Regions from separate parts of the Homo sapiens genome. Here all the other regions are linked to region 3. Evidence: fine-mapped expression QTL. A gene starts in region 3. Each other region holds a variant in brackets. All regions are shown on one strand. Distances are from middle to middle. Region 1 holds the start of SMIM17 (small integral membrane protein 17). Region 2 overlaps ZNF71 (zinc finger protein 71). Region 3 holds the start of ZNF71 (zinc finger protein 71).

What was found.
Region 1: its variant is fine-mapped to the expression of ZNF71 in monocytes after interferon gamma (Fairfax 2014, PIP 0.95).
Region 2: its variant is fine-mapped to the expression of ZNF71 in esophagus muscle (GTEx, PIP 0.96).

What each region holds. Positions count from the first base shown.
Region 1 is chr19:56,635,433-56,645,944 of GRCh38, reverse strand. It overlaps SMIM17 (small integral membrane protein 17), which reads right to left and starts at 2,786. Exons shown (of 4, transcript NM_001193628.2): 1 at 2,735-2,786; 2 at 109-377. The coding sequence starts at 277. It overlaps ZNF71-SMIM17 (ZNF71-SMIM17 readthrough (NMD candidate)), which reads right to left. Exons shown (of 5, transcript NR_163263.1): 3 at 109-377. RefSeq lists silencers at 7,641-7,852, 7,650-7,944. The variant C/A (reference allele first, on the strand shown) is at 4,359.
Region 2 is chr19:56,618,019-56,628,530 of GRCh38, reverse strand. It overlaps ZNF71 (zinc finger protein 71), which reads right to left. Exons shown (of 4, transcript NM_001370215.1): 4 at 4,045-7,263. The coding sequence ends at 5,774. The region is part of intron 2 of ZNF71-SMIM17 (ZNF71-SMIM17 readthrough (NMD candidate)); the gene reads right to left. Among named protein-coding and RNA genes, the nearest start is that of SMIM17, 20 kb to the left of the region's middle. The variant C/A (reference allele first, on the strand shown) is at 5,642.
Region 3 is chr19:56,591,093-56,601,604 of GRCh38, reverse strand. ZNF71 (zinc finger protein 71) reads right to left here and starts at 6,303. Exons shown (of 4, transcript NM_001370215.1): 1 at 6,177-6,303; 2 at 14-98. The coding sequence starts at 46. It overlaps ZNF71-SMIM17 (ZNF71-SMIM17 readthrough (NMD candidate)), which reads right to left and starts at 6,303. Exons shown (of 5, transcript NR_163263.1): 1 at 6,177-6,303; 2 at 14-98. RefSeq lists a silencer at 5,952-6,341.

The sequences.
Region 1 (10,512 bases), 44 kb before region 3:
ATAGCTGTTGAATGGATGAGTGAAGGAGTGAATGTTTAGTCTTTCCCTAGGCTCTGCCAATTCCTTCCTCTCCACCCACTCACCTCCCAAAGGACCCCTGCCTCTCACCTTTCTCATCACTGTCATGGCTGGAGGCCCCAACCTCCACAGCCTCCCAGTCTTTGGTGCAGGCGGGATGAGGAGGCTTCTCCCAGGCCCGGCTCTCCCGAGGCAGCAGAGTCTTGGTCCTCTCAGGCTCCAGCAGCCCCCGTGTCTGCTCAGGCCTGAGACTCTGCATTGCCCCAGGAGGAGGTGGAGCTTCTGAGACAAGCTTCTCTTTCTCCTCCTGCTCCAGGGTCCTCTCTGGTTCTCCAGGCACAAGATTCAGAACCTGAGGACTGATGGACATTTCATCATTCAGTGAATCATTACAGAGGGCCAGCAGGGGCTAGGCACGACTGTAAGCATTAGAAATACAGCAGTAATCAAGTGGAGATTCCTGCCCTCCTGGGGCTTACATTCTAGTAGGGAGACAAAGAGACAGGCAGGGAACAAATAAAGCACACAGCAGGTCAAACGCTAGAGGGTGCTCTGGAGACAAAGCTGGAAAGGGAGTGATTGTCATGGGCAGGCACATGCAGACACACACACTCACATACTCCCATATACACACATACAAACATAAACACATCCACACATACACACACACAGACACACAGTCACATACACACACACTAACACAAACACAAACACACACACATCCACATTCACACACACTCACATAGACTAACACACACACTCATACACACTCACAGTCACACACACTCACATTCATACTCACACACATACACACTCACATACTCATATACACACCTACAGCCACACATGATTCTCCAGTCTGCACATTTGTATATAACAAATGGGATAGGAAACGACATGAATTAATAAATAAATCAGCCAGGCGAGGTGGCTCACACCTGTAATCCTAGCACTTTGGGAGACCAAGGTGGGAGGGTTGCTTGAGCCCAGGAGTTTAAAAATTAGCCAGGTGTGGTGTCACGAGCCTGTAGTCTCAGATATTGGAAGGATCCTTTGAACCTGGGAGTTCAAGGCTTCAGTGAGCTAGGATCGTGCCACTGCACTCCAGCCTGGGTAAGAGAGAAAGACTCTCTCAAAAATCAATCAATGAGTCAATCAAGAGGACTCTTTTACTGTCACTTTTCTACAAATGAAAATTAAATATAGGTCCAGAGAAATACTTCTCTATTGTAAGGAGCACATGAACAAATGGCAGTGGATATATGGCATGGGGAGAGACGACGGAGGCAGTGGGGAGTGGGGCAAGAGAGATCAGGTCTCCTGTCTGAAGAAGCTGCACCATGCAACTCAGCTAATGTCTGCAGAGCAAACGCATGGGACTGGTGTCGCCCATCCTGTGATTTCTCAAAAGAAGACTGGAAATCTATATTTTCAGATGGCATTTTCTACATTTCATGATGTCAATAATTATTTCCAGTGTTTAACAGGAAGACACCTTTAGTCAAATAGCACAAGTTGTGGGGCTGAATTAGACCCTGGGGTTGCCCATTTGCAACCTCAGTGTGGGCCGGGGAGTCTGTTGGGAGTGAGGAGAGGAGGCTGCCTAGACATTTTTCAGGGCAAGAAAATTCCTATGGGACCTTCGTGGGAAAGAGTGTTAGAGAGTACCATTAGGGAGTTCTGATTTGTTTATTGCTTTGGGGTTTTGCTTGGCTTTGTTTTTAATATGAGACATAATTAATCATGGATCTAGGTTGAGGGGAGGGGAAGGCATGAGAAAGGAGAAAATGCAGGCAAGCGGGGTGACAGATGGGAAAGACGACAGCCATCAGGTCAAGGTCAGGAGAAGCTGGATCCGCAGTGAATGGAGGAGGAAGAAGGAAAGGGGATGAGACAGAGGTATGGTGGGGGGAGGAGATTCACACCCCACAGCCTCAGTGTTCATGGTGAAATAGCAAACAAGTCATCCCCTGAGAGAATGGAGACGCAGTCACAACAACGACAACCAGCAACCACAGTAAAAGCAATAAAAATACCGGCAGTGTTTCCCGGAGCCCAGAACTCTCCTTGTGCCCAGCCCTGCTGAGCCCTGCGAATCCCTTTTCTCACATAAAGGTGGCCATACTTCTCGCTACAGATACTATTAGGTTTCCATTTAACAGACAGGGAAGTCCCCTGATCAAAGCCACACAGCTCAGAAGAGTGGGGGCGGGGCTGCTGCACCTGTTTGCTGAGAGCCTGCGCTCCCACCGTTGCAGGGTGGTCCACAGGGGCCCAGGCGGACACACAACGCGAACACGCACAGGTGCACACTCGGGCAGGTGCGCTGAACACCCCAGGGGGAGCGAACATCGACACCAAGCCCCAGCGAGACGAGCGCACGTGCCCGTGCCGCCCCACGAGGGTACACAGGTCTGTGCTCCCCTCCTCACGAGGAGGCTGGAATTCACCTGCAACCCCCAAGCCAGGACACAGACCTCCGCTGCGGAGAAACAGACCCGACCCCGACAGACCCCGGTCCTCTCCCACCGGACGGGCTTGGAGACGCCCTCTCCCCGGACCCTATCCCTGGAGCGGTTCTGCCCCTCACCCTCGCCCAGGCACACACACCCTCTGCGCATCCATACTCGCGCGCGCATCCCCGGATCGCCGCCCGCGCCCCCAGCCCCTTTTCTCCGCCTCCTTCCCGCCCGCGGGGGTCCCTCGAAGGACTCACCCTCCCCAACCGGACCCTGTCTGGGCTCTGCAGAGCTGGCGCCGCACTGACTGCGGCTGCGCAGACGCGGAGGCTGCGGGGGGGTGGGGGGAGGTGGGAGATGGGAGGTGGGGGAATTGGGGAGCGTGGGTGTCCTCCTCCCCTCCTCCACCCCCGGGAAGCCTGCACCTGGAGGCGCGTGGGGAAGGGAGTGGATGAGCCGCAGAGGCGGGGTACCCGCGGCGTGGTTGCAGGGGGGTGTGGTACCGAGCTGGTCCATCTCTAGCTGATGAGCACGTAGGTTATGTTCGAGGTACCCTGCGACAGACGCCCCAAGGCCAGCGGCTTTGCGTACGCCCCCCGTGGTTCTCCAGTCTGCAAACCGGGAGTCCGGGGTGGGCGGAAGGGAGAAGGAGCTGGGGCAGGGGGTGGCAGCCCGGGGACCCTGAGGCCCGACCGCCTGGGGCAGCGGCTGGCTTTGCCATTTGTTACTAGTGAGTCCTCGGGTGTGTTACTTAACATTTCCGTGCCTCGGTTGCCCATGCTGTTAAGTGGGAATAATTATGGTTACCAAGTCCCAGGATTTCTGTGAAAGTAAAACAATAATAACAATAATAAGTAATACACGTACAGTTCTTACAACAGTGCCTAATAGCTGCTATTATTATCAATGACCATTGTTGTTCAAATTTACAATGCAGTGACTACAGCCAAGTTGCTCTCATGGAGGCTACATTAAATTTTTAAAATTTTCGGCAAAGCCATAGGTAGGGGGAAAACGGCGTCCCTGCATCATCTTAGCTACATTTCCCTGATTACTAGTGAGGAGAATTAAACACATGTATTTGAACAGGCTTATTCTCTCTTCTGTGAATTACCCGTTTATCTCCTCCTCTCCGCATTGTTCTATTTGTTTATGTAGCTTTTACTTACTGATTAATAGACATTCTTTCTATATTCTGCACATTAATCCTTTGCCTGTTACTCTATCTGTGGCAAATATTTTCTCCTGGCTCCTCCCTTATGTTTTTATTGTGTTTACACAGTGCCTGAAGTTTTGAATTTTAATAAAAATACAAGATATCCTTTTTATTTATTTATTTATTTTTTGCTTTTAGGGTCTTAAGATGCCCTTCCTCAGCCTTGTCTCTCCCTCTCTTCCCCGCCCCTCCTCCCCCTCCTTGTCTCTTTGAGACAAGGTCTTACTCTGTCACCCAGGCTGGAGTGCAGTAGTGTGATCATAGCTCACAGCAGCCTTGAACTCCTGGCCTCAAGTGATGCTCTTGCCTCAGCCTCTTGAGTAGCTGGGACTGCAGGCATGTGCCACCACACCTGGCTAATTTTTAAATTTTTTGTAGAAACAGGGTCTCACTATGTTGCCCAGGCTGGTCTCAAACTCCTGGCCTCAACTGATCTTCCCAGCTCAGCCTTCCAAAGTGCTAGGATTACAGGCATGAATCACTTCTCCTGGCCTCCCCTTACTCTCATAAACACATTTTCCTGTATAATCTTATATTTTACAGTCTTATTTTATATATTTATTTTGTTTGAACCTTCTGGAATTTTTTTGAATGGTATGAGGTAAGGATTTAACCTCCTTTCCCTAATGGATAGAAAATTGAATTACCCTGGTTATTCAGAAAAA[C/A]AAAAATAACTGTCATTTATCAAAAAAATACTACAAGGAAAGCCATCTCGTTAATATTATCTCATTTAATTCCAACAGCCCAAAGTGGTAGTATTATTATCCCCATTTAACAGAGAAGAGAACTGAGGCACAAAGGAGTTAAATGAGTTGTACAAAGGACACACAGTAAGATTATGGAAGGACTGAGATTGGGTTTGCCTACGAGTTTTCAGATAGGTTATGTAATTGGGATGGGAAACTTTCTTCATTTCTATGTTTAGAAGATGAGTTTCCTGCCATTCCAAAGATAGTTCAGAGTGTGCAGAGAAGAGAGATGAAGTGTCAAGAATTAGACATTTCATCCAATCCTCATCACCTCCTTTGATAACAAGACATTTAGTGCAGGAGACCAGGTGAGCTGCCCCAGGTCACAGAGTCTTGAGAGGGTTAGGAACTGGGCATCCAGATGCAGATCTAACAATGTACTAGCTGTATAACTTTGGGAAGTGAATTAACTCGGTCTCAGTTTCCTTACCTGCAAAATGGGGACAATAATATTTTCTACCTCATAGGGTTAGTGTGAACATCATATAGGTTAATACATATGCCTCCTAATTTTGAGTGCTCAGTAAATGTCACTGGTATTATCATTATAATTATTGAACAGCAGGTCCTCAATATGGGGTAAAAATCTCCAGTTATGATCCTGATAGTCCAGATGAATTATGGTTGTTTCAAAATGGACTCAAGTTTGAGGGGCTTCCCCAGAATTCTGAGGGAACAAATTTTTTTTTCTTTGAGACGGAATTTTGTTCTTGTTGTCCACACTGGAGTGCAGTGGCACAATCTCGGCTCACCGCAACCTCCGTCTCTCGGGTTGAAGCGATTCTCCTGCCTCAGCCTCCCGAGTAGCTGGGATTACAGGCTTGCACCACCATGCGCAGCTAATTTTTGCATTTTTAGTAGAGATGGGGTTTCTCCATGTTGGTCAGGCTGGTCTCCTGACCTCAGGTCGTCCACCTGCCTCGGCCACCCAAAGTGTTGGGATGACAGGCGTGAGCCACAGTGCCTGGCCGAAAGGAATGTTACTGAGTGACCCCTTAGAGGTGATTTCTTCCCTAAACAGAAGAAAACAATGAAGGGAAAGTGTCTGGAATCCTGTTTTATGTCTTTAATGTTTCTCAAACTTCAACCTCTCAAACACCCTTTTTCAATGTTTGCCCTGTTTCTGCAGCAATGAGTAACATCTTCATGATTGCTTTCATTTACACATAACATCCCTGCATTCCTATTTACTTAATATTTTTATTTAAAATGAATTCATTTTCTAAAACCATTTAAGAAGTACCTTTAAATGGAAACTTTACAGCACTCCTATAAGTGGAAAGCCAGTTTCAAGTGCCATAACCTAAAAGGGAAATAAAATCACGATTAAAAAATTATAGCTATATGCCACCACTACGTGTGGTAGATTGAATTATTGGTTCCAATTCTTCATTATCCTACTGTAACATAACACATTCTCTGTCTTGCCATAGCCTCATAGCAAGCCAAGGGCTGGAGTACAGATGTGTTATCCCCATGGGCCTTTTCCCTTTGTTGATTGTGCTTTGTATACTTTCACTGTAGTAAATCATAGCCGTGAGTATGACTATGTGCTGAGTCTCTCTTGAGTCCTCCTCCCAGGAAATCATCAAACCTGCGGATGATCTTGGGGACCCCAACACAAACCCTGGACCACAATTTTACCAGGAGGTAAGTGCTGTTGACATCTTTTTGGGGCTCCATGACTAGCCAGGAAAAGAAAAATTAATGCAGGGCTGAGAATTCATCCACTCATTCATTCATTCACTCATACAACTAATATTTATTAAACAACTGCCATGTGAAGATGCTGTTCCGGGTAGCTAAGGCAACTGATGTCTGTGGCCTAATGGAGCTTACATTCTAATGATGAAAACAGACAGTGTCAAGTAAACCAATAAATGCAAAATGAAATATAGTTTGTGCTAAATTCTGTGAAGTACTAAATTCTGTGAAATAAATCACTGTGATAGTAACTTTGAAGCCACTTTAGGTGGGGATGGTCAGGGAAGGCCTTTTAGAAAAGGTCATATTTTGAGCTAAGGACCAAATGGTGGAAAGGAGACAGTTATAGTTGAATCCACACTTGAATGAGTTCAGCACCATGGACAGAGCACACCAGAGGCAAAGGCCCTGAGGAACCAACAGGGAGGTGGTGTGGCCAGTGTGACCAGGAAAGCGAGAGTGTCATGGGATGTAAGATAGAGAGGCGCCCGGGCGCGGTGGCTCACTCCTGTAATCCCAGCACTTTGGGAGGTTGAGGTGGGCAGATCACGAGGTCAAGAGATCAAGACCATCCTGACCGACATGGTGAAACCCCGTCTCTACCAAAAATACAAAAATTAGATGGGCGTGGTGGCACGCGCCTGTAGTCCCAGCTATTCAGGAGCCTGAGGAAGGGGAATCGCTTGAACCCGGGAGGCGGAGGTTGCAGCCGAGATTACGCCATTGTACCCAGCCTGGGCGACAGAGTGAGACTCCATCTCAAAAGGAAAAAAAAAAGATAGGCATCCAGAGTCATGAAAGCCACAGGAAGATCTTTGAATTTTATTATAGGTGTATTGGAGATAGTGGCAGGTACTGAGGAATGGTATGATAGACTCTGGTTTACATTTTCCAAGGCTCACTGAAACTGCTGTGTGGGGAATGCACTAGAAGGGGCGGTAAAGTAGGAGGATCACTTAGGAGGCTCTTGCAGTAAACCAGGTGAGAAGCGACGGTGGCCTGGAGTAAGGCAGTGGCAATGGGGATGGAGAGCAGTGGGTAGATTCAGGATTTGCTCTACAGGTGGAGCTGAGAGGACTCACTAATGGGTGGAGTGCGAGGTGTGACAGAAAGAGACGAATCAAGGGAGACTTCTGGGCTTTGGGCCTGAGCAACTGAGTGCCCTGAAGTGCCCTAAGTGAGATCAAGTTTATTTTGTGGGGAAAATCCAGAGTTCCCTTTTGGGCATATTAACTGTTGGATGCCTGCATTTCTGAGGTCAACTCCAGAAGAGCCTGGATTACCCAGATAGCCCCATCAGAGTCTCCAGAGGTGAAAGTTGCAGAGGGGGCTCAGGAATCAGCTCAGAAGAGCGTCTACATCTAGCACAGGTGATGGCGAAATGACACTTGTTCCTATCCATGTTGCAGAACCAGTCCAGCAGGGCTCTTCGTGATACCGGAAGAGTCCCAGCACAGGCTACCCTGCGAGGCTGGGGGGAACTGTCCTGCGAGCCTGGGGGGCTGCCTGTGGTGCTGAACCATTCTGGCCTGAGCCGCCCGGGGTTCTGATGGATATTAGCGGGGCTATCCGTGGTGCTGAACCACTTCCAGCAGGGCTGTCCGGCGAGGCTTGAGCTGTCTGCGGTGCTGAACCATTCACATCACGAGCTGCCTTGGGGGCTGTCCGTGGTGCTGAATCTGTCTGGCGTGAGCTGTCCGCAGTTCTAAACCATTCAAGCATTAGCGTTCGGTGGTGCTGACGCTCTACACAGAATAGCTGGAGAAGACTTTTTTTTTTCCCCCTCCTTCAAAGAACCCATCCGCCTGGGGAAAGCCCTGCTGTTTCCTGGAAACAAAGATCTCTGGGCTGTAGAGATCATGGGATGAAAACAGATGAGGGCAACAACTGCAAAGTCATTTTTAAGTGACAGCTTTTGTTCTTAGGACAGCAGGGCCTGGCTGAACCGGATTGAAATTATTAACATGAAGTTTCCCAAAAAGCTCTGAAGAGGGGGAAAGTACAGAAAGGAAATTCAGAGAAAGGTATGCCCCGGATTCAGGCTGTTGGTTATTCTGGGTTGGGAGAAGCAGTGGAGTGGGGAGGAGAGGGCTATATAAATATATGCGAGTTATTGGCAAAGCCCTAGGTTTTTTTTTTTTTTTTTTTTTTTTTTTTTTTTTTTTTGAGATGGAGTCTCGCTCAGTCGCCCAGGCTGGAGTGCAGTGGCGCGATCTCGGCTCACTGCAAACTCCGCCTCGCGGGTTCACGCCATTCTCCTTCCTTAGCCTCCCGAGTAGCTGGGACTACAGGCACCCGCCACCACGCCCGGCTAATTTTTTTTTTCTTTTTTGTATTTTTAGTAAAGACGGGTTTTCACCGTCTTAGCCAGGATGTTCTCGATCTCCTGACCTCGTGATGCGCCCGCCTCGGCCTCCCAAAGTGCTGGGATTATAGGCGTAAGCCACGGCGCCCAGCCGGCAAAGCGCTATTTTTTATGTTGCAAGCTGGGGTCACAAGAGGGATGTTATTGTAGATTTACAGAAATGCAGCATGGCTACAGTTTCTCATGCTTCCAAATACAACCAATCACATACATTGTAAACTGTGACTGTTATTTTAGTGTCGCTTTAGCTGGTGAATAGACACACCCACCATCTTTTTGTCAGGGTTAGTCTTGAATTATGTGGGTTTTGAATTGTACACCCTCTGCAAGAGTGAGTCCTTCACAAAATCAAATCTCTCTGGAATTGTTGAATGGATGAATAAGTGTTCTTCCCAATGATCTGGTCACCAGAAAAGGCACAGCTTCCACAATCACTCAAGAGACAGACATTCATAAAGCACTCACTACGTGCTGGACATTGCAGGTGACACCCAGTATGCCTGAAGCATATCCTGTATGCCTAATAGGATGATATTCACAACTTTTCAAGGGCCAGAGAGCTTTGAGGCTCTGACTTTGAGCTCTTTGTTTACCTAGAACCACTGTGATATGGCTCTTCACTATCTTTCTATTATGTCCTCTAATGGAGTTGCTGGCCCAGTGAGTTTTGATATTTCAATTTCTCAAAATAAGCTGGAGCTCATTACTTTATGAATATTTCTTTTTGCTTACTGTCTGCCTTGTTTCTAAAATGGTACAGACCCATGATGGTAGGGGCTGTGTGTTTCTAATTTACCTCTGAGCCTCCAGAACCTGGAACGTGTCTTGGCACATACCAGATGGCCCATGAATGTTGTTTTGAAACAGTCGAATGAATGAAAAACGGTGTTTGTAAATGTAAACTATCTCAATGTTTTAATGATGGTAATTCATTAAATTAAAAGGAAAATGAGTGACGTGACCTGAACTGAACTGTGCTCGTCAGTTGGCAGGATGAAGTCTATGATCTGCCAGATCGAGACATCCAAGATCACAGACCCCTGTTGAGTAAGACTTTGCCATAAGACCACTTCATGGGCCAGTGACCTGTTGTTCTATCCTCTGGTACATCTGCTGTGGCCCATAAGGCAGGGTTCTGTGGCACCAAGCAGGGAATCCTATCAGTAGGGACCATCCCACAAGGAGAGGAATCTATTTCATGCTTTTTGGCAACTGCAGGGAATTAATCACATTGTGTGGATGTATCTAGTGTACGTGGCCATCTCCAAACTGTGATCATTTGGGAGCCTCGGACACCCTGGGGCAGGTCAGCTTGTAAATGGCATATCCAGGATTAAACCCAGAGCGATATGTCCCCAAAGACCTTCTTGTTTCACTACTACTAAAAAATTTTCCATTTATTTAAGGTGGGATTGCAAGGGGAAGAAGTATGATTGAAATGGGAAAACTCACCTTGTTATTTAAAACCTAGAAGGATACAATCACTTGGGGGTGTATGGGGTAAATCATACAAGGGCAGCGAGCTGTCAAGTCTGCTTAGAGAAACAGGTTCTCCTAGCCACTTCCAGCCCACAGGGCTTTTCTGCAGTCTCGCTAGAAAAATGATTCCAAAGACAGAATCATTATAAATCAAGTAACATTTATTGAGAGCTTAATGTGTCCTCACCAAGATCATGTTGGTTGAGTGTTGTTATTATACTCATTTTACAGAACAAAATAGATCATCGTGGATGGATATGAAAAGGTCTCCAAGACACATCATTTCATGGGAGGATGGGGGAAGCAAGTTGCAAATCTACAGATGCAGTCTGACATGAATGACGTGAAAACCCAGCAACACATAAAACAATGTCGATATTTTCTGTGGGCACATAGATATGTCTATAAAGTCTTCTCAAGTTAAAAACACAAAAGGTATTTAAAAGAAAAAAAATCACAAGATTACCAGGCTTACCAACATTACATTTGTTCTTTCATGATAAAAAAAAAAAGCGGTAATAA
Region 2 (10,512 bases), 27 kb before region 3:
CTCCATCATCTCGAACTAATTATTAGTGTTCTGAGCCTGTTTCCTCAATTGAAAGTGAGAATAGTATTACCCTATATTAATGATGTAAGCCCTGTTAATGTATGTAGCTCTTTTATATAAATATTTAAGACTCTATTACAAATATAAACTTTCTATTAATAAATAATAGTATGTATAATAAAATATTATTAGGGCTGTAAGGTGTGTGTTGGATAGTGCACCTGCTTGACTCAAATCACTCATGTTCATGGCCCTACGCCTGGCCTGTCAGGGGTCATAGAAAAGTCTGTGATCTTGGAGAGGATCCCTAGCTCATCTCATGTAATTTGGAAACTGCCACCACACTGGGATTCTGCAGGAAGACCTTCCTCCTCTCCCCCATATCTGAGGCTGTGAGCTGAGGCCCAGCCTCTCAGTTGGACCATTCTCAGCCCAGGAATCTGCGGCTGCCAGGGGCATCAGTCCACCCAGGAGGCCCCTTCATCATGCTCTGGGGCAGGCGCACTGGGTTCCCGGGTACTGACTGGGATTCCTACAATAAGATGGTGTCCAGGCAGGGAGGAGCAGAAGGGCCTTCCCTCTGCAGCCTGGGTCTCCTGAGGCTGCCCCTCAGCCAAGATCTGGGCCCAGAGCCTTCTCCGGCTGCCCATGCTAAGGCCAAATGCAGGGGATTATCTCTGGCTAGAGCAAAGATTGTATGAACAATGCCTTTTATTTTCTGATGCTTTGACATTTTGAAGCCTTGCCGACCTTGGAGGGACTGTCACTCCCAGATCCAGGTGATTCCTAGAGACGGCAAAGAATCCCCTTGAGAGCGTGCCTTTCACAAGCAAACCACCCAATCCAGAGCCCACACCCAGCACCTCCCCAACTGGGCTCCCACACTCAGGGGCTCTGTGCACCTGCCCTCATCCAGGGCTGAGAACCAGACAACAAGGGCAGCCCCTGTGCCCCAGAACCGCTAAATTACTCAGAGAAGCCAATCCTGCTCCTTGCTGTGGAAGCGACAGAGAAGCTCCTGCCCCCGTCTTCCCCCAGCCCCTCCACCTCCTGACCTGCCCTGGGCTTCCCTGTGTGGCCTGGCACTGCCCTCGCCTCTCAGGAACTGTAGCAACTCTCTTTTCAATCCCTGGTGTCTCCTGACCTATGGGCCTCACCTTCTCAGAATAAGAATAAAACCTACATTTTAAATCAGACAGGGGCAGTGGACAAAAGGCTGAGGAATCCAAGTCAGATCCAGGTCTCCAGGGACTATGTTAGGTCCAGGGTGGAATGGGCTGCTGCCTCAGAAAACTCACTTGCTTATTCGTGATTCAGCCGGGAAGCATTTATTGAGCACCTACCATTAACTCTTTCATTCAACGGACATTTACTGAGCACCTACTATCTGCCTGTGCCTGTGCCGTGCCAAGTGCTGGGGAAAACAACAGTGAGCAGAACCAGCAACATCCAGATCTCTACCTGAATGCCCGTGATGGAGATGGATGGTAAAGAAAGAAAACAAGTATCAATACAGACTGCAGTGCGTGTGATGGGGAATACGAAGCAGGGGAAGAAGGGCGATCAGGGAGGGCCTTGTTATCAGTTAGGGTTCTCCAGAGAGGCAGTAGTGATACAACTTAATATAGTTATATATGTCCTATCATATAGATTGCCTTATTTAGATCATATATATCCCATATAGATATATCATATATATGCTATTATATATATTATGCATTTATTATATATACATTATATATCTCATATAGATTTTTTTTTTTTGAGACAGAGTCTCATACCATCGGCCAGGCTGGAGTGCAGTGGCATGATCTCAGCTCACTGCAACCTCCGTCTCCTGGGTTCAAGTGATTCTCCTGTCTCAGTCTCCCAAGCAGCTGAGATTACAGACACATGCCACCATGCCCGGCTAATTTTGTATTTTTAGTAGAGATGGGGTTTCACCATGTTGGCCACGCTGGTCTCAAACTCCTGACCTCAGGTGATCTGCCTGCCTCGGCCTACCAAAGTGCTGGAATTACAGGCATGAGCCACCTTGACTGACTGACCTTTTTTTTTTTTTAAGAGAGAGTCTTCCCTTGTCACCCAGGCTGGAGTGCAATGGCATGATCATACCTCACTGCAACCTCTAATTCCTGGACTCGGGCAATCCTCCCACCTCCGTCTCTTGAGTAGCTGGGACCACAGGCACACGCCACCACACCTGGCTAATTTTTCTAACGTTTTGTAAAGATGAGGTCTTGCTATGTTGCCTAGGCTGGTCTCAAACTCCTGGTCTCAAGTAATCCTCCCACCTTGGCCTCCCAAAGTGCTGGGATTACAGGTGTGGGTCACCATGCCCTACCCTATATATATCTTATACATATCCTTTTATATACCTCATATTTCTTGTTATACATATGGCATATGTATACTTTTATATATAAATAGATTTAATTTAAATAACCGGGTCATGCTACTGTGGGAGCTGGCAAGTCCCAAATCCATAAGGTAGGCTGGTAGGCTGGAAACTCAGGCCGGAGTTGGCACTGTAATCCTGAGGCAGAGTTTTTTACTCTCCAAGAAACTGGTTTTGCTCTTAAGGCCTTCAACTGATTAGATGAGGCCCACACACATTGCAGATAATAATCGTTTACTTAAAGTCAGCTGACATGGGTGACATCCACATCTATAAAGTGTCTTCTCAGCACCACCGGGACTCACTGCGATGGGCCTGCTGGGCACTGGAGCCCAGCCAGGCCGACACGTGAAACTGAGCATCAGGGACCTGAGGAAGCTCAGCGTGGGTGCTGGGCCAGGAAGGGAGAGGCCCCTGCGGTGGGAGTGGGCTGGGCCAGCGCTGGGACTGAACGAAAGCACAGTGTGGCTGAAGCAGAGTGAGCAGGGGGAGCGGGACGGGAGCTGGGAGAGGCTGCGTCACACAGGGGTTTGTGAGGAGTTTGGCATTTACTCCAAGTGATAAAGGGGTCATTCAGACCCCACCCAGCACCCATGACCTCTACCTCAAGGCCAGGCTTGGGTCAGGCCTGGGGACACAGGGACACAGGGACACAGGGCCCAGTGAGGGTGAACTCGAAGGCCAGCACATAACCCCAAATAGTGCCTTGGACAGATGTATGGGATAGAAGACTTGTTAAAAAGCAGGTTCCTGACCTGCTTGATCCCTGCCAAACCCACATTTTCAGGGGGGTAAATTTAATTTGGCTTCAGTAAGTACCTGACTGAGGAACTGGTGGGTGGAGTGGTGCCGTGGACTGCAGTCCAGCTTCTGGAGTCAGAATGGGTTTGAATCCAGCAGCTGTGTGACCTTGGGCAGGTGCCTGAACCTCTGCGAGCCTGTTTCCCCATCTGTAGAGTGGGGGTGATGAGAGCGCCCCCTCAGAGTTGGACAAGTGACTCCGTCAATGTGGCCATTATTCCAGCCACCTCAGGGTTCCTCTTGGGGAAACGTGGAGCCCTGAGTGGGGAGCTTGCCCAGGAGGCGGGAGACCAGGGATGTGAGACCCACCTGGTACCACAGCATCCCCCCAGAGGAGCCTCAATGCCCTCCACATCAGCTTGGGTTGCAGAGAAAAGAAACAGGAGGGACCTGAGAGGTGGCCCGGCTGGTTCTCTGGATGGGAGAGGGGGATGGTGGTGGTGCAGCCTCGATCCCATCTCTGCTTCACACACTGGGGAGTCCAGGAAACCAAGGCCAGGAGTCAAGTCCTGAGAAATTCAATATGTCCATCTCTAGAAGTAGTCCAGTGTAGGCAAGGAGCACGGACCTCGGAGCCCAGGTGGACCCCAGCTCACACCCTGTCCCCTCCACTTCCATGTTGTGTGCCCTCAGGAAGCTTACCTTGCCTCACTGAACCTCAGATTCCTTATCTATACGACATGCACATGAATCCCTACCTCGAGGATCTTGTGAGGGTTAAATGAGCCATTTCATCTCTCCAAAGGGCCTTAGAAGGTCTTCCCCTCCATTTTGCTGCTAAAGAGTAGTAAAATCTTGTGTACATATTAGCTAACATTTGTTGACTGTTTTAACACTCCATTCTCTGCAGTGCATACATATTCTCATTTATTCCCACAACAGATGCAACTAAAGCAATGTCTGATCAAGACTCGCTGCTGGAAACCACCACAATCCCACGTGGGAAGCCAGCCTGAGGATGATGTTAAGAAGTATGAAGGGAGAGCCAGAGCATCACAGAGAACCACAGCTATGGCTCCAATGATGAGAGCCTGAATCAAACCCACCCTGAGGCCCACTTGACTGCCAGAATTTGAAAAACGGTCCACCTTGTTTATACGTGCCCGAGTGGCTGTTTTTCTTATTTGCAGAATGTGCTTGCTGATATAATTTTTTTTCTGTATTATTTATTTGTGTACACCAGTGTCAGGGAGTGTGGAACAACTGGAAATGCCAGAACATTAGCAACCAGTAGTATCAAATAACAAAATTAAAAGTATGGCCTAAAAGGCCCCAGAGAAAGTGCACTTTGGGGAACACTCTTATGTGTAAACAGAGCTTCAGTCGGCCTTAGGAAACTCACTCGAAGTTACTGATATGGTCTGTTGGTGCTTCCCTGTATTCACATATTGGAAACTTGATCCCCAATGTAACAGTATGAAGAGGGAGGACCTTTGGGAGGTCATGAGGTCAGGGCCCTTGTGACTGGGATTAGCACCCTTATAAGGGGCCTGAGGAAGTCTGCCGTTTACAACCACGTGAAGACACACATCAAGACACAAGCACTACCTATGAAGAACATACCCCATCAGACACCAAATCTGCCAGAGCCTTGATCTTGGACTTCCCAGCATCCAGAACCATGAGTGACAAATTTCTATTGTTTATAAATTACCCAGTCTAAGGTCTTTTGTTACAGCAGCAGGAAGGGACTTAAGACAGTTGCCTTCACATTTAGCTGCAAAAATCACTATAAAAATAATCTGTGCTCAGATGTATATACTTATTGAATCCATGCATATTTCTTTCTGAATATCAAACCTGCTGCTGTTTCTTTTCCTTCTTGCCCCTCCCACAATCACTGAAGCCGATTTTGACCAGACAACTGGCCAAAACAGAAGACTGTTTAAAATAACATAGTCTCCCTTAATTAAAAGTTTTATTTTTAAAAAACGTAACAGACCACTCTAAGAAACTTTGGCATTCAAAGCAGTAGTTACTGTTATTTGCTAACTCTGAAAAAAAAATTTTTCCCCTCACAAACAACCGGCAAACTCCTGCCACTTCCTAGCTTGGTGGCTGCCAGCGTGCACTGCAGGGAAACGGTGGGTGGAGGGATAGGAAGGCCCTCACGCTCCCAACCCACGGAGAAAATGCAGATGGTGACAAGCTGCATCTGGACTCCAGGATGTATCTGACAAAGAGGGAGATGTCTCCTCCCTCCCCTCCACCAGCTCCACTTTCCCGCTGAAGAAACAGAGATGTGGAGGCAGGCGTGACCTGTCCCAGCTCTAGGACAGTTACTCAAGAGGGCTAGTCTGGAACCCTGATGTCTGTTACCAGCGGCCATGGCTCAGCTACAGTGAACCTTGAAGTGTCCCCAGATACGTCAGACACCGAGGGGCTTGCTTTCTGAGGCTCAGTAAGGAGGGGGCATGTGTGATCAGCCAGCCCCTCCACAAC[C/A]CCACATTCCTGAGCTCCCCTGACCCCGAGTCCCCACCCCAGGGGAGAACTTCTCACAGCACTGCTGACAAAGCGCGCAGCCATCTGGCGTCCGTCCTGGGCACCGCCAGTGAGAGCCCTGCACAGAGGCGCTCAGGTGTGAATCCGCAGGTGGCGCGTCAGGTTCGTGTTGCGGCTGAAGGTCTTCCCGCACTCGCCGCATCGGTAGGGCTTCTCGCCCGTGTGGATCCGCTGGTGCACAGTGAGGGAGGAGTTCTTGATGAAGGACTTCCCGCACTGGCCGCACCTGTACGGCTTCTCGCCGGTGTGGATCCGCTGGTGCTCGATGAGGTAGGCGCTCTGGCTGAAGGCCTTGCCGCACTCGCCGCACACGTAGGGCTTCTCCCCGGTGTGCACGATCTGGTGCACGATGAGGGACGAGCGCCCCGTGAAGTGCTTCTTGCAGATGTAGCACTCGTAGGGCTTCTCGCCGGTGTGGATGCGCTGGTGCTGCGTGAGCGAGGAGTTCTTGCTGAAGGCCTTGCCGCACTCGCTGCACTCGAACGGCTTCACGCCGATGTGGAAGCGCTGGTGCTGGATGAGGTAGGAGCTCTGGCTGAAGGCCTTGCCGCACTCGCCGCACACGTAGGGCTTCTCGCCGGTGTGGTTCCTCTGGTGCAGGGTGAGCGAGGAGCTCTTGTTGAAGGCCTTGCCGCACTCCTTGCAGGCGTACGGCTTCTCCCCGGTGTGCGTGCGCTGGTGCTCGGTCAGGTGCATGTTCTGGCTGAAGGCTCGCCCGCACTCGGGGCACACGTACGGCTTCTCCCCGGTGTGCGTGCGCTGGTGCACGATGAGGTGCATGTTCTGGCTGAAGGCCTTGCCGCAGTCCCCGCACGCGTAGGGCTTCTCCCCCGTGTGGATCCGCTCGTGCTGGGTGAGAGAGGAAGTCTTCCGGAAGGCCTTGCCACACACGTCGCACACATACGGCTTCTCGCCCGTGTGCGTGCGCTGGTGCACAGTGAGGTTCATGCGCTGGCTGAAGGCCTTGCCGCAGTCCCCGCAGGCATAGGGCTTCTCGCCCGTGTGCACCCGCTGGTGGATGGTGAGGGACGAGCGCTCGATGAAGTGCTTCCCACAGGTGTCACACTCAAACGGCTTTTCTCCCGTGTGGATCCTTTGGTGCTTTATCAGGGACGAGCTTCGGCTAAAGGCCTTGCCACACTCGCTGCAGTCGTAGGTTTTCTTCTCCTCGCAGGGCATGGGGGGCTTACTGAGGTCTGAAGTGCTGGAGAAGTTCTTGCCACGCCTTACGGGTGGACAGGCCCCCTTTTCTGTGGGGTCGTCCAGCCGTGGTGGGACCAGGACACAGCCTTGGTTGGCAAATGCCTTCAGTTCATGACATGCGGGTACTGAGCCCCCTAAGAGTTTGTTCCCCTGGGGAATTCCCAATGGCTCCCACTCTGCACCTGCATCTCCCCGCGGCCTCTCTGGCCAGCTGCCTGGTTCCCACACTCCTTCTGAGCCAGGACCCCTGGCACCATTCCTCGTGGGTCCCCCCGTGGCCTCCCCAACAACGGAGAGCTTGTCTTCCGAAATGTCATTCTTTGGATCCAACTCTTTCATTTCAGGTCTAGTCTCCCAGTCTGAAAAAAACAAAAACAGAAGATGCAAATACATGTAGTTAAAGATGCTGGGAGTGAGGAAGCTCCACAGCAGGAAGGAGCAAATGAAACCGACCCCAATGAGGCCCAAGGCACAGAGCGAGTTAGCAAAGAAGAACCTTGGATCAGAGAGGGAGGGAGGAGGGAGGCATGGAACTGAGGCCAATGTGGTTTATGAAGCAGAGTCAACACAGGAGGTGAACAGGGAGAGCAAATGTCCCTTCAGAAGAGGGATGACAGGCACTCCTGGAGAGAAACTGCAGTAGTGAGCTGGGCTTGCAGGGAGCAAAGGGCAGGCTCTGCAAACCTGAGTAGGAATGACTGCAGCCGGCTACTGACTTGCAGGGCCTCCTCACTTCATCCTGCAGATCCACAACCAGTCGTGCTCCTCAAGCAACAGTTTTTATCAGAAATAATAAGATGGCCAGGCACAGTGGCTCATGCCTGTAATCCCAACACTTTGGGAGGCTGAGGCAAGGATTGCTTGAGACCAGCCTGGGCAACATAGTGAGACCCCCCACCCCCGCCTCTACTAAATTTTTTTTTAAAAATTAGCCAGGCATGGTGGCACATGCCTATTGTCCCAGCTACTTGAGAGGCTGAGGTGGGAGGATCACTTGAGCCCAGGAATTCGAGGTTGCAGTGAGCTATGATCACGTCACTGCACTCCAGCATGGGTGACAGGGTGAGACCCTGTCTCTTAAAAAATAAATAAATAAATAAATATTGAAAAAAGAAGAAAAAGAATAAAGAAATAATAAATAGCTAGCATTTATATGGCATGTGTTGGTTATTCTCTACTCCTTCGACCCACTTTCTATTCTCCACCCTTCTCTGACCTGCCCTGTGCTCAGGATGCTGACTTTGCCCACTGGCTTCCTGTGTGTTTGGCCAAAGGCAGGAAACTGGAAGTGAAATGAGAGAAAAATCGGGCATTTCTCCTGCCCCTTTGCCACTTCTCTGGTATGGCTGCCCCAGGGTTGCTGGCTGCAAGATCCTCTCCCCTGGCTGGGGCTCCGGCTCCCGCTAGCTCATCACGCACCTGCCCTGGCTGGCCCCAGCCCTCCCGCACCCCAGCCCTCTCATCAGCCTCAGCACTAAGTGTTCATACACACAGGACCGCTCACTTGAGCCCACAATAATCACATGACTTGGGGTCTCACAATTGCTTCTGTTGCTACGTCACACGCTGCCTAGTTCTTGGGTGGCAGGCATTCCGTGGAGCTTGGGTTCAGACCCTCTTTCTCTGCTCATCCACCCTCCCTGGCTAAATACCTCTGTGCCCACAGCTTCAATCACCTTCCACGTGTATCCTGTTCATTTCTAAACCTCGATTTCTAGCCTAGGTGGAGTCTAGACTCTGCATCAGGGGACTCATTCCCAGCATTTAAAAGTTGCTGTCCATGTGGCTGCTAGCTCATAAAAAACATGAAGATATGGCCACGTGGAGCCTCATTCTTATGGGCAACAAGACATTGCATGGGGCAGCAGCTGTCCCCCTCCTCCACATAAATGATCCACCTGGTAGTTCCTGAGGCCACCTGAGTTTGAGACCACTCTCCTGAATCACACTGGACCTTCAAAGCCACACAAAGTGAGTCTGGATCTAAACGTTATCCACAGGCTGATGCTGCTCAAACATACACCTTCAGCCCAGACCTGCTTTCTGGGCTATGTCCAAACTGTTCAAAAAAGCCCAGCATCTCAACTGGATAGCCCAAGCCTAACACATCCGATACGAAACTTGGGATTTCAGACTTTCCCCATGAAAAACATTTTTTAAAAAAGCAAAGCCCATCAAAGAGACTTAGTAAAATAAATCAGACATGAAAGGATGGATGCCATGTGATTCCACTCATCTGCGGTACCTGGAGGTCGGATTCCCAGAGACAGACGGTAGAACAGAGGATGCCGGGGGCTGAGGAGTGGGTGGGAGTTGGTGTTTAATGGGGATAGGGTTTCATTTGCGGGAGATGAAAAGAGCTGTGGGGATGGATGGCGGTGATGGCTGCACAACAACATCAATGTCCTTAAGGCCACTGAACTGTACTCCTATAAGTGGTTAAAATGGTACATTTTATGTTCTCTATATATTTTTCACAGTTTTAAATATAAAATTTAAAAAATTGTTTTAGAGAGACTTAGCAGACATCCTGACTTGCCCTTTCCCTCCCACCGTCCTGACTGCTGGCAAGCATTGCTGTGCGCAAACAGCCTGAATCAGACCAAATCTCCCGGTCCCCACTGACAAAAAGCCGGCTGGCCACCACGGGTCCTTGCCTGAAATGCGACAGCAGCTCCTCTCTGTCCTCCCCACCCCATTCTCACCCCTGCAATGCGTCCTCCACTCCTCCGGGAGTGCGGTCTTCTGAGGAGTCAGATCAACCCTCCCGTGACCTCCCTACGGTACTGAGAATGATGCCAGGACCTCCAGCAGCCTCAGGGCCCTCAGCACCCAGCAGGCCTGCCTGAGTCGTCCCCTGCCCACCCTCCCTCCCAGTTTCTCATCACCATGCTCTCCCTCTTGTCCGTGTGTTCTTCCTGCCTCAGGGCCTCTGCATCCACTGTCCTGTGGACCTGCCGTGGACGTCCTTATCCTTCAGGCCTGTTTCCCCACAACCCCACGGGAGCCTTCCCAATCCACCCTACGTAAGGAAGGAAGGTCCTCCTGCCCACTTCTTTATGAACACTCAGTGACCTGTGGCAATTTTTCTCTGCCTGTCCCTTGATCTGATTATTATCGGCCCCCAGCAGGAGTCAGCTCCACTAGAGGCAAGGGCCTTGCTCACCCCCCAGCTCCTCACACAGCCTGCACACAGAAGGTACCAGATAAGCGAGTATGGAGCACTGGCAACACGCCTGGCACAGTGCTGAACAATTTGCACGGATCTCTGGAGACCCTCACAATCATACTTGAGTTACATACAGTAGTAGATAGTTATGACCATCCTCATTTTGCTGATGAGGAAACGGAGATACAAGAATGGAGTCAGAGATGTACTCGAGGGCACAATACACCTGAGGCACAGCAGGATTCAAGCCCTGGCAGTGTGGCCCCCGAGCTGTGGCTCCTGAGGAGTGGCTATATTACCATGCATCACTTTTCCCATCTCAGAGGAAAAGAACTGAGAAATACTTCATGCAGGAGAATGATTGTGGTTTAGAGACCCTAGTCAGGGTGTGGCACAATGCCCAGATGCTGGCACAGATGGTAGTGTGGGGTGTAGACTC
Region 3 (10,512 bases):
CAACATGACTCACCAGTGCCTCATCAGTCAGCAGCTGAGCAGCCATCCCTCTGCTGCCCACGGTGAATAGGAAGACAGGCCTGCGGTGACCAACAGTGCTGTAGGGAGAAGAAAGAGGGAGGCATGCTGAGAGACCAGGCCTAGGCTGGCCTCACAAATGTAGACAGGACAGACACACACCCACTGAGAGACAAGCAGAGACAGACAGATAGACACACATACACATACATCAACAGTGAGTATTTAGAGGGCTTACTGCATGTAGGGAACTTGAATGTATATCACTTGATCTTCCAACCATCCTGGAAGGTAGGTACTACTTCTACCTACCCATTTCACAGATGAGGAGGCTGAGGCCCGAGGAGATTAAACCACTTGCTCAAGATTACAGAGCTGGGACTGGAGTCAGGCAGAGTATGTCTGGGTCCACAGCTTAGCCTCCAGGCTACAATGCCTCACAGATGCACTCCCATGTACACTCCTATAGATATGGTTAACACACATACACTCACACACATTCCCGCAGGCTGCTGAGGGCCACCGGACACCCTGCCTTCTCCCAATGGCCCTGCCCGGATCCCTCCTTGAGTGTGAGTGCTGGACTGAGGCCCCCTGAGATGCCCCAGAACCACCTGTGGCCTCTTTGGGCACTTCCCCCAGACTTCATGGGGTTACCATGAGGTTCAACTAGCAGATATGAGTGTAAGGAACTTCCACCCAGGGGCTCTCAGAGCCAGATTCGCCTAGAGAAATGCATCTTGATTCAATTCTCCTCCAGTTCTCCTGACAAGCTCAGGATAAAGTCTCAAGTGGAGAGATATCTTAACATCCCTGCAACCCATCACTCGCCCCTTGAAACAAAAGAAAAGCAGGAGAATAAGATCCTGTGATTTGCAACAACATGGATAAAACTGGAGGTCATTATGTTAAGTGAAATAAGCCAGGCATAGAAAGACAAACTTTGCAAGTTCTCACTTGTGTGAGCTAAAAATTAAAACAAACTCATGGAGATAGAGACTAGAATGATGAAGAAACCTGAGGCTGGGAAGGGTAGTGGAAGGGTGGGGGGAATGTGGGGATGGCTAATTGGTATTAAAAAAATACAGAGGGCCGGGCGCGGTGGCTCACGCCTGTAATCCCAGCACTTTGGGAGGCCGAGGCGGGTGGATCATGAGGTCAGGAGATCGAGACCATCCTGGCTAACAAGGTGAAACCCCGTCTCTACTAAAAATACAAAAAATTAGCCGGGCGCGGTGGCGGGCGCCTGTAGTCCCAGCTACTCGGGAGGCTGAGGCAGGAGAATGGCGTGAACCCGGGAAGCGGAGCTTGCAGTGAGCCGAGATTGCGCCACTGCAGTCCGCAGTCCGACCTGGGCGACAGAGCGAGACTCCGTCTCAAAAAAAAAAAAAAAAAAAAAAATACAGAGGGTTGCAGTGAGCCAAGATTGCACCACTGCACTCCAGCCTGGCAACAGAGCGAGACTCCATCTCAAAAAAAAAAAAAAAAAACAAACCCCAAAAAAACAAAAAAACACACACACAAAGAATGAATAAGACCTACTATTTGACAGCACAACAGGGTGACTATGATCAATAATAATTTAATGATACATTTAAAAATAACTGGCCGGGCGCAGTGGCTCATGCCTGTAATCCCAGCACTTTGGGAGGCCGAGGCGGGCGGATCACGAGGTCAGGAGATCAAGACCACGGTGAAACCCCGTCTCTACCAAAAATACAAAAAATTAGCCGGGTGTGGTGGCAGGTGCCTGTAATCCCAGCTACTCGGGAGGCTGAGGAAGGAGAATGGCATGAACCCAGGAGGCGGAGCTTGCAGTGAGCTGAGATGGCAACACTGCACTCCAGCCTGGGTGACAGAGCGAGACTCCATCTCAAAAAAAAAAAAAAACAAAACACTAAAAATGTAATCAGATTGTTTGTAACACAAAGGATAAATCCTTGAGGTGACAGATACCCCATTTATCCTGATGTGATTATTACACATTGTATGCCCGTATCAAAATATCTCATGTACTCCATAAATATATAAACCCACTACACACCCAGAAAAATTAAAAATTAAAATTAAAAAGAAAAGCAGGGTTCAGGCCCCAAAGTTAGGGTGACCATAATATCTCATTAGAACTACCTGGCTTTACTTCAATTTGTTTTAAAGTTTGTTTCCCTTCTTACAGCAAAACTCAGCTTCTTTTACAGCAGTCACACAGAATACCCTTTTAAACTAAGTTGATTTAAATTAAAAACAAAAAAAAAATCAGTGAGCCAAATCAAGTAAATGGCAAAGTAAAAAAATAGGATCCATGACACAGATGAGGACAAATTCTTGGAGTCTGAGACATGCTGGCTCAGTCCTGGCTTCTCCCGTGATGGGGGCTCACTACCCGTGCCACCAACACCTCTGACTGGAAATGAGTTTTTCTTCTGCTATAAACAGAAACATGCCTCTCTACATCTCCAACCCTTCAAGATCACCCAGAAAAGCCTCAATCCTCTCCAACACAATGCTCTTGTAGCTGGTGCACCAATTCTCAAAGTACCAGAATCACTGGGGATGCTTATTAAAATCTCACTCAGAATATATATTCCTGCCCCCCACCTCAGATCCTCTGAATCAAACTACCTGGGTAGGGCCCCTGAATCGGTATTTCTAAGCAAGTTTCCCAGGTGATTCTGACACGTCTTAAAGCGTAAGAACCACTAAGACAAAGAAGAGCCTTTCTTAGGCCAAATGGCCCCAACTTCCACAAGTGAAAAGTAATTTTAATTGTAGGGGGGCATATATATAAGGCCAAGTTGGCAGAAGCCTTTGGAACTCAATCGGGAACAATTCTGCCCCCGGAGACATTTGTCAACGTCTAGAGACATTTGCCAAACTGTCATAATTTGGCAGGGGAGTGCTATGGGCGTTTAGTTGGTAGAGACTGGGGATGCTGCTACACACTGTACGATGCACGCGACAGGCCCCACAACAAAGAATGATCAGGCCCAAAGGTCAGTAGTGTGGAGGTTGAGAAGCCCTGTTGTAGAACAAAAGGATCACAAAGGTGTGGGCTGGGGGTTCCTACCACTTAATGCCTGTACCCGGGCACCACACCTGGCCAACTGTAATCACTCAGTGAAAATGTCCTCTGGGCTAAAACTCTTCAAAACTCTTCGTTGGCTTCCCCCACCATTAGAAATCACTCAAAGTCTTCACTGCTGCCCACATAGCCCTTATGATGTGCCCCTGATGGCCTCTCCCCTTCCATCTCCTCTACTCCCCTCTCCCATGCTTGGCCCCAGGCCTCCTGGCCTCTGCATCTGCTGTTCCCTCTGGAGGGAATGCTCTTCCCATGACTACCCCTGCTTCCTGGTCAGCTCCAACGTCACCTCCTTGGAGAAGTCCTCTACCCCCAATCACCTGACCTCAAGCAGCAACTCTCTCCCCCTCTATTTTCTTGCAGTACAAACCACTATTGACAACTGTCTTTTTTAAAATAGTTGTTTTCAAGTTTGTCATCTGTCTTCCCTCCATGAGAACAGAAGCCCCCAGGGAGCAGGGATGATCACTTTCAGATTGTATTTCCGACATCTAGGACAACGTCTAACACACAGGAGGCACTTAGACATCAAGCTGAATGAACAGATGAGCTAACTTCTAGTGCTGGCCAGGATTGAAAGGAACAGGCCCTCTCACACACTGGTGAGGGAATGTGAGTCGCTCAACATTTTTCTGGAAAGTGAGCTGGCAATACACAAATCCCATAACCCAGCAACCCTGTTCCTGGGAATCTGCCCACACCAATAAAAGCTCCGTGTAAAAGTTACATATAGGAAAAAAAGATATTTATGGCAGCATTGTTTCTAGAGGCAAAAAAAAACCCTGAAAACAAAATTAATAAACATTACTAAAGGAATCAAATCGAGGGTAGGGTCTCCATAGTATGAAGTATCAGGTCGCCTCTGCGAAGCAGAGTTAGTTCTGCATCTGTTGACATGTCTGTGGTTTCACTAAGTGAGAAAAGCAAGTTACCCAGTTTTATGCATACCTTTAGCCCCTTTGTGAAAAAACAAACCAAAACATGTGGATGTGGACACATCTGTACAGCATCTTCCAGCCTGGGGAAGGCTGTGGAATGAGGCTGGGTTGGTGTCTGGAGGGCATGGAGTGGGAATGAGAAGGGGGTAGAAGTTATTAATTATTTTTTCTTTCTCTTCCTTTGAATTGTTTCCCTGGGTGTAGAAACTTCATATTACCATCAACATTTTTGAAACACAATTTAATATAAAAAAAAATTCCTTGCAGATAGTGGTCTCTTTCACCCCTGTCCTGTGAGGTCAAGAACACTGGCCCATTTTGCCAGATCACAGCAGTGACCAGAGCCCACTTACCCAGTAGGCACAGAGCATGGGGCCCATGAAACCTTTAGGGGCCCATAGGAAGGTCTTAATTTCTTTTAAAATCATAAGAAAATATCTAATCCAGCCTAGATTACATTTGTCTTCCTATTAATGAAATAACAAAATGTAATTTTTAGTGCTTTAAAAAAACAATGGAGCAAGGGGCCCATGAAGGCAAAGTACCCTTAAAAATCATGCAGCGGCCCTGGAAGTGACTTGCCCAAGAGTATGGCCAGTGGCTGTTGAACCCAGTTTGGCCTTAGATCTGGATTCTTCTTCCTCTGAGCTTTTTGGCATTTCCTTCCTTTCTTCCATTTCCATTGTTTCCAAGCGGGGATTCCCTCGGGGAAAATCCTGCAACCTTGTGTCAGCTGAGCGGAAAGGGAAAAAAGGGATCTCCCATTTGTCTGGTGGTTAATTGTGGGGGCTCTGGAACCTGGATGCCTGAGGTAGCCTTGGGTGAGTCACTTAGTCTGAGACTCAGTTTCCCCATCTGTAAGATAAGGATGATGATGGTCTCTACCTCAGAGTTACTGGGACATCTATAAATGGCCAGCACTGGCTGCATACACATTCCCTGAACAAATCAACCTCTCCTTGGTCAGAACAGAGTAGGGCACAGAGACCCTTTGGGAGTCTGATCCCACTTTAAGAAGATCCTGTGGGAGGCAGAAGAAACAGCCTTCCTTTTCCCCTCCTCCACCCGGCCCCTGTCACTCCCAGGCCCCTACGCCTCCAGAGCCTTCTATGGGCAGGAAAAAGCCAGGGAACTGTGGGCAGGCAGACTAGGAGAAGCGTAGGGTGAGAAGGTAGTGGCTCTGCTAGGCTCCCTTGTCCAGGCATATAGTCTTTGGAAGAGGCACACCCAGACGCACCCACCCCTGCAGAGTCACACGCAAACATCAAGAAATACTCTAGACACAGGTGGACACACAGAGATAGGAAAGATCCAGACAGGACTGGCCCCTGGAAAGACACAGCCCTACACTCATGCCAAGAGACATGCATGGAAAGAGCAGACATAGTGGACACCCAGAGGGCACCCTCCCACAGAGACACTCATGGACAGAGATCAAGGCTGACACACCCACAACACCAAAGACAAGGACACAGGCAGTCACTCAGAGATATCACCACACATGCATAGGCAGAGACCTGGAGAGACACAGCTCCACAGAGAGACCAAGACTCTGAAGAAGTGGGACACACACACACACACGCTACCACACATGACCCACACGGACATACATGGACACATTCACATTCATTCACAGACCCAGCCTCTGGACGACACGCAGTTTCTCTCTCTGTCTCATACACACACACACACACACACACACACACACACACAAACACACACACACAATCACAATATCCAGAGACACAGCCATACCCTCAGGACGACACAATCTGTCTCACACACACATACAGACCCACACAGACACACACACAGACACATTCACAATATCCACAAAGACACAGCCTCATCCTCAGGATGATATGCACTGCCTGTCTCTCACACAGGCCACCTTCCCCCCAGGATGGCCCTCGTGTTCATGCAACTTTCCTACCTCCAACCCACTCACGCCTCTCCCTCCCTGGCCCCGGCCTCTCCTCAGCCCCTCAGCCTCCAGTCAGCCTCTCCTTAGCCCCTCAGCTTCCCCTCAGCCTCTCCTCGGCCGCTCAGCCTCTCCAGGCGCACCTCGGTCCCGGCCTGCACGCCCTCTCCTGCGCCCGCACGCCCTGGACCAGCACCCAGCCCTGCACTCCCCGTACCTGGGCCTGCACGCCGTCTCCCCGAGGCCGCGCCCTCCCCGGGGCCAGGTTCCGGCCCCCGGCACAGGTAGAGGGTGGGCGCGACCCCGCAGCCACACTCACCGGCTCGCCGCTCTGCCAGGACAATGACCGCGCCCGCTAGGCCCGCCCGACGGCAGTGCGCCTGCGCGGACTGCGCCGGACTACGCTTCCCAGAAACCCGCGCGCGCCACCTCCCCCCGGCTTTTTTCAGCCGAGCCCAGCCGAGTGGAGCCGAGCGGAGCCAACTGAGCTCCTCCATCTCACAGAGGACTCCGCGGCCAAGGAGGCTGGGGCGAGAGGGAGGATTGAGGGGGAGGAGGCAGGGAAAGGGAAGGAGAGAGAAGAGACGGAGGGAGGAAGGGTGGAAAGAAAGACGGAGGGAAAGGAGGGGCGAGGAGGAGGGACAGGAGGGAAGGGGGGAGGAGGGAGAAAAGAAGTAGGAGAGGTGGGAAGAAGGATGGAAGGGGAGGAGGGATGGGGAGGAGCGGGGAGAAGAGAGAGGATGGAGAGGGACTTGGGGAGGAGAGCTGGGGAGGAAGAAGAAGAGATGGAGAAGGAGGAGGGGTTGGAAGAAGGATGGAGGGGAAGGAGGAAGGGCTGGGGAGAGACTAAGGGAAAAGAACAGGTCAGAGAGGAGAGGAACCAACAGAAAGAAGAGGGAGCGGGTGGGAGGAGGGAGGGGCAGGGAGGCAGGAAAGGAAGAGAATGGAGACGGCAAGGAGGAGAAGGAAGAAAGGGTGGAAAGGGGGATGAGAAGGTGGAAAGGACTATAAGGAAGAAGAAAAGGGTGGGAAAAGGAGGAAAGAAAGAGGAAGTCGAGTTGGGGAGGGCAGGACAGGCTGAAGAGAGGAAAGAATGGGTAAGGAGAGGGAGGAGGGAGGAAGGAAAACAGAAAAGGACAAGGGATGGGTGGAGGCAGAGAAATGAGGGGGATAAAAGAGGCGTGTCACATCTGCTGCAGACATTTCTGCAGTCCAGCCAATGGACTGGCCTGAGGGACCATCCCAGGCAACTTTAAACCTGATAATCATGCTTATCTTTAAAGAACACTTTTTAAGCATACAGATGTGCAAAGAAGAAAATGAGCATAGGTGTAGAATAAAATGTATAGGAGACTATCGGTTTGGACTGAGTTCCTGCACTAGGCCCAACAGATCAAATCGAAATGGAGCTACTCATGCTGAAGTTCCAGGCCACCAACTCCAACTAAGTTGTTACCTGACCTCCTCTCAGGAGAGAAAGAGAGAGATAATAGCCAAGTCCCAAACAGGCCAGTTTAGCAGGCATGATAAAAGAAATCCCCTTTGCTTTAACCATGATAGGGAAAGTAACTTTGAAATGACCCATCCACTCTTGTTCTCTGTTTCTGCTTTCCTCAGCCCGTTTCTGTGTATGAAGCCATATTCCTCTGCTTGGATCACCAGAACACTAGTTCTATTTTATAGAAGGAGGTGTGGCTGGATTCTAGAATTGCAAATAAAAAACAACTAGATCTTTAAATGTCAATTCCCTATATCTTTAGATATAAGAAAAAAAGCATTAATCCTTGTTGTGAGTTTCCTTTGTTCTGACCCCTGGTCTCCACATTTTATGATTTATAAACAATCTTCACAGCCAAGCTACTTTCCAGATTAGTTGGGTAATACAGACAGGGGAGCTTACACAAGAGGAAAGGTAGGAACCAGATGCCTGGCTGAGACCCTTTTCTATAGTAAACCACAAAGCCAAGTTTAAAAACATTTGCTGAATGTCCAAGTGGCCACAAAACCATCAACAGCAGCTAGCCTTAGGTGGTGATTAATGATGTATTTAAATGAAATATTTTATTCTGAGATAAATGTGGATTTATTCACGTCAGGTTGTAAAACATAATATAGAAATCATACAGAGAGACCTATGTCTCTTAGGTAATTTCACCCAAGGGCAACATCTTGCAATATCACAAGTAGGATACTGACGTCGGTCCATTCAAGAGACAGAACATTTCCATCACAAGGATCTCTTCCGATATTTCCACAAGGATCCTTCATCTTGCCCTTTTATAGCCACACTCACTTTCCTCCAGACTCGATCATTAGTCTATCCTCCATATATACAATTGTGTCATTTCAAGAATGTTATACAAATGGAATCATACAGTATGTGAATGGTGGAATTGGCTTTTTTCATTCAGCACAATTCTCTGGAGATATATTCAAGTTGCTGTATAGAGAGAACTTAATTATCTTGCATAACAGAAACTTTATACTCGTTGAGTAACGTCTTCTCACCTCCCCCAGCCCCTGGAAACCACCATTCTAATTTCTGTTTCTATGAGGTTGACTATTTTAGATTCCACATGTAAGTGGAATCATAAAGTATTTGTCCTGTGACTGGCTTCTTTTACTTAGCATAATGTACTCAAAGTTTATCCATGTTGTCGCATATGACAGGATTTCTTTTTCTAGGGCTTAAAAATATGCCATTGTGTGTGTATGTGTCTGTGTGTGTCACTTTTTTTATCTGTCCATCTGTCAATGGACATGTACATTGTCTTCATCTCTTGGCTATTGTAAATAATGCTGTAATGAACATGGAAGTGCATTATTCATTGCAACCTCCTGGAGATCTCCTTGAGATCCTAGTTTCAATTCCTTGGCCATATACCCAGATGGGGATTGCAGGAATATATGGTAGTTCTACTTCTAATTTCTTGAGGAATCTCCAAACTGTTTTCCAAGAAGCACCACTACTTTGCATTCCCACCAACAGTAAACAAGGGTTCCAATTTCTCCACAGCCTAACACGTTATGTTTGTTTGTTTTTTTTTGAGAATAGCCATTGTAACTGGGATGAAGTAATATCTTGCTGTGGTTTTGATTTGCATTTCCCTGATAATCAGTGATGTTTGAGCATCATTTCATATACTTGTTGGCTATCTATATGTCTTCTTTGGGAAAATGTCTACTTAAGTCATTTGCCCATTTTTAAATCGGGTAATTTGTTTTTTAGTGTAATTGAGCTGAAGGAGTTCCTTATATATTTTGAATATTAACCCCTTATCAGATATATGGTTTGCAAATATTTCCTCCCAATTAGTAAGCTGCCTCTTCCCACTGGTAATTGTTTTCTTATTACAGGATTTTGTGTGAACATAACTCTTCATTTCTCTGGGATAAATGCTCAGTAATGTAATTACTAGGTCATATAGTATGTTTAGTTTTCTTCTTAACAAACTGTCAAACTGTTTTCCAGAGTGGCTGTACCATTTTACATTCCTGGCATCAATTTATGAGAGCAGTTTTTCCAAATCCTAGCCAGATACCCAGGAGTGTGATTGCTAGATCATATGGCAAGGGTATGTTTAGCTTTGTAAGAAATCACCAAACTGTTTTCCAAAGTGCATACCCACAGCAATGAATGAGAACTGCTGTCCACAATCTTGCCACCATTTGATATTGAAAGTTCTTTTTGGATTTTAGTCATTCTAATAAGTGTGTAGTCATATCTTGTTGCTTTAATTTGCAATTCCCTAATGACATATGATGGTAATATGATGGTAAGCATCTTTTTCCATGCTTATTTACCATCTGTATATCCTCTTTGCAGTTTTTGTTAGATCTTTTGCCCATTTTTCAAGTGCATTGCTTTCTTATTGTTGAGTTTTATGAGATCTTTGTATATTTTGTATGTAAGTCCTTTAGCAGCTATGTGTTTTGAAAACATGTCCTCCCAATGGTGGTTTGTCTTTTAAGTCTAACAGTATTTTTTCACAGAGAAGTTTTTGTTTGTTTTTTGTTTTGTTGTGTTTTGAGACAGAGTCTCCCTCTGTCGCTCAGGCTGAAGTGCAGTGGCACGATCTCAACTCACTGCAACCTCCACCTCCCGGGTTCAAGCGATTCTTTCACCTCAGCCTCCCGAGTAGCTGGGATTACAGGCACCTGCTACCACACCTGGCTAATTTTTTGTATTTTTAGTAGAGATAGGGTTTCACCATGTTGGCCAGGCTGGTCTCGAACTCCTGGCCTCAGGTAATCCACCCGCCTCCAGCCTCCCAAAGTTCTGGGACTACAGGTGTGAGCCACTGCACCCGGCCCACAGAGTAGTTTTTAATTTTAATGAACAACTTATAAATTTTTTTCTTTCATGTATTGTGCTTTTTTTTTCTTTTTTTAAATTATTTTGGATTGTGCTTTTCAATCTTGTATTTAAAAACTCATTGCTAAACCAAAGGTCACCTAGATTTTCTCCTGTTACTTTCTAGGAGTTTTATAATTTTGCATTTTTACATTTAAATCTATGATCCATTTTAAGTTAATTTTGTGAAAAATGTGTC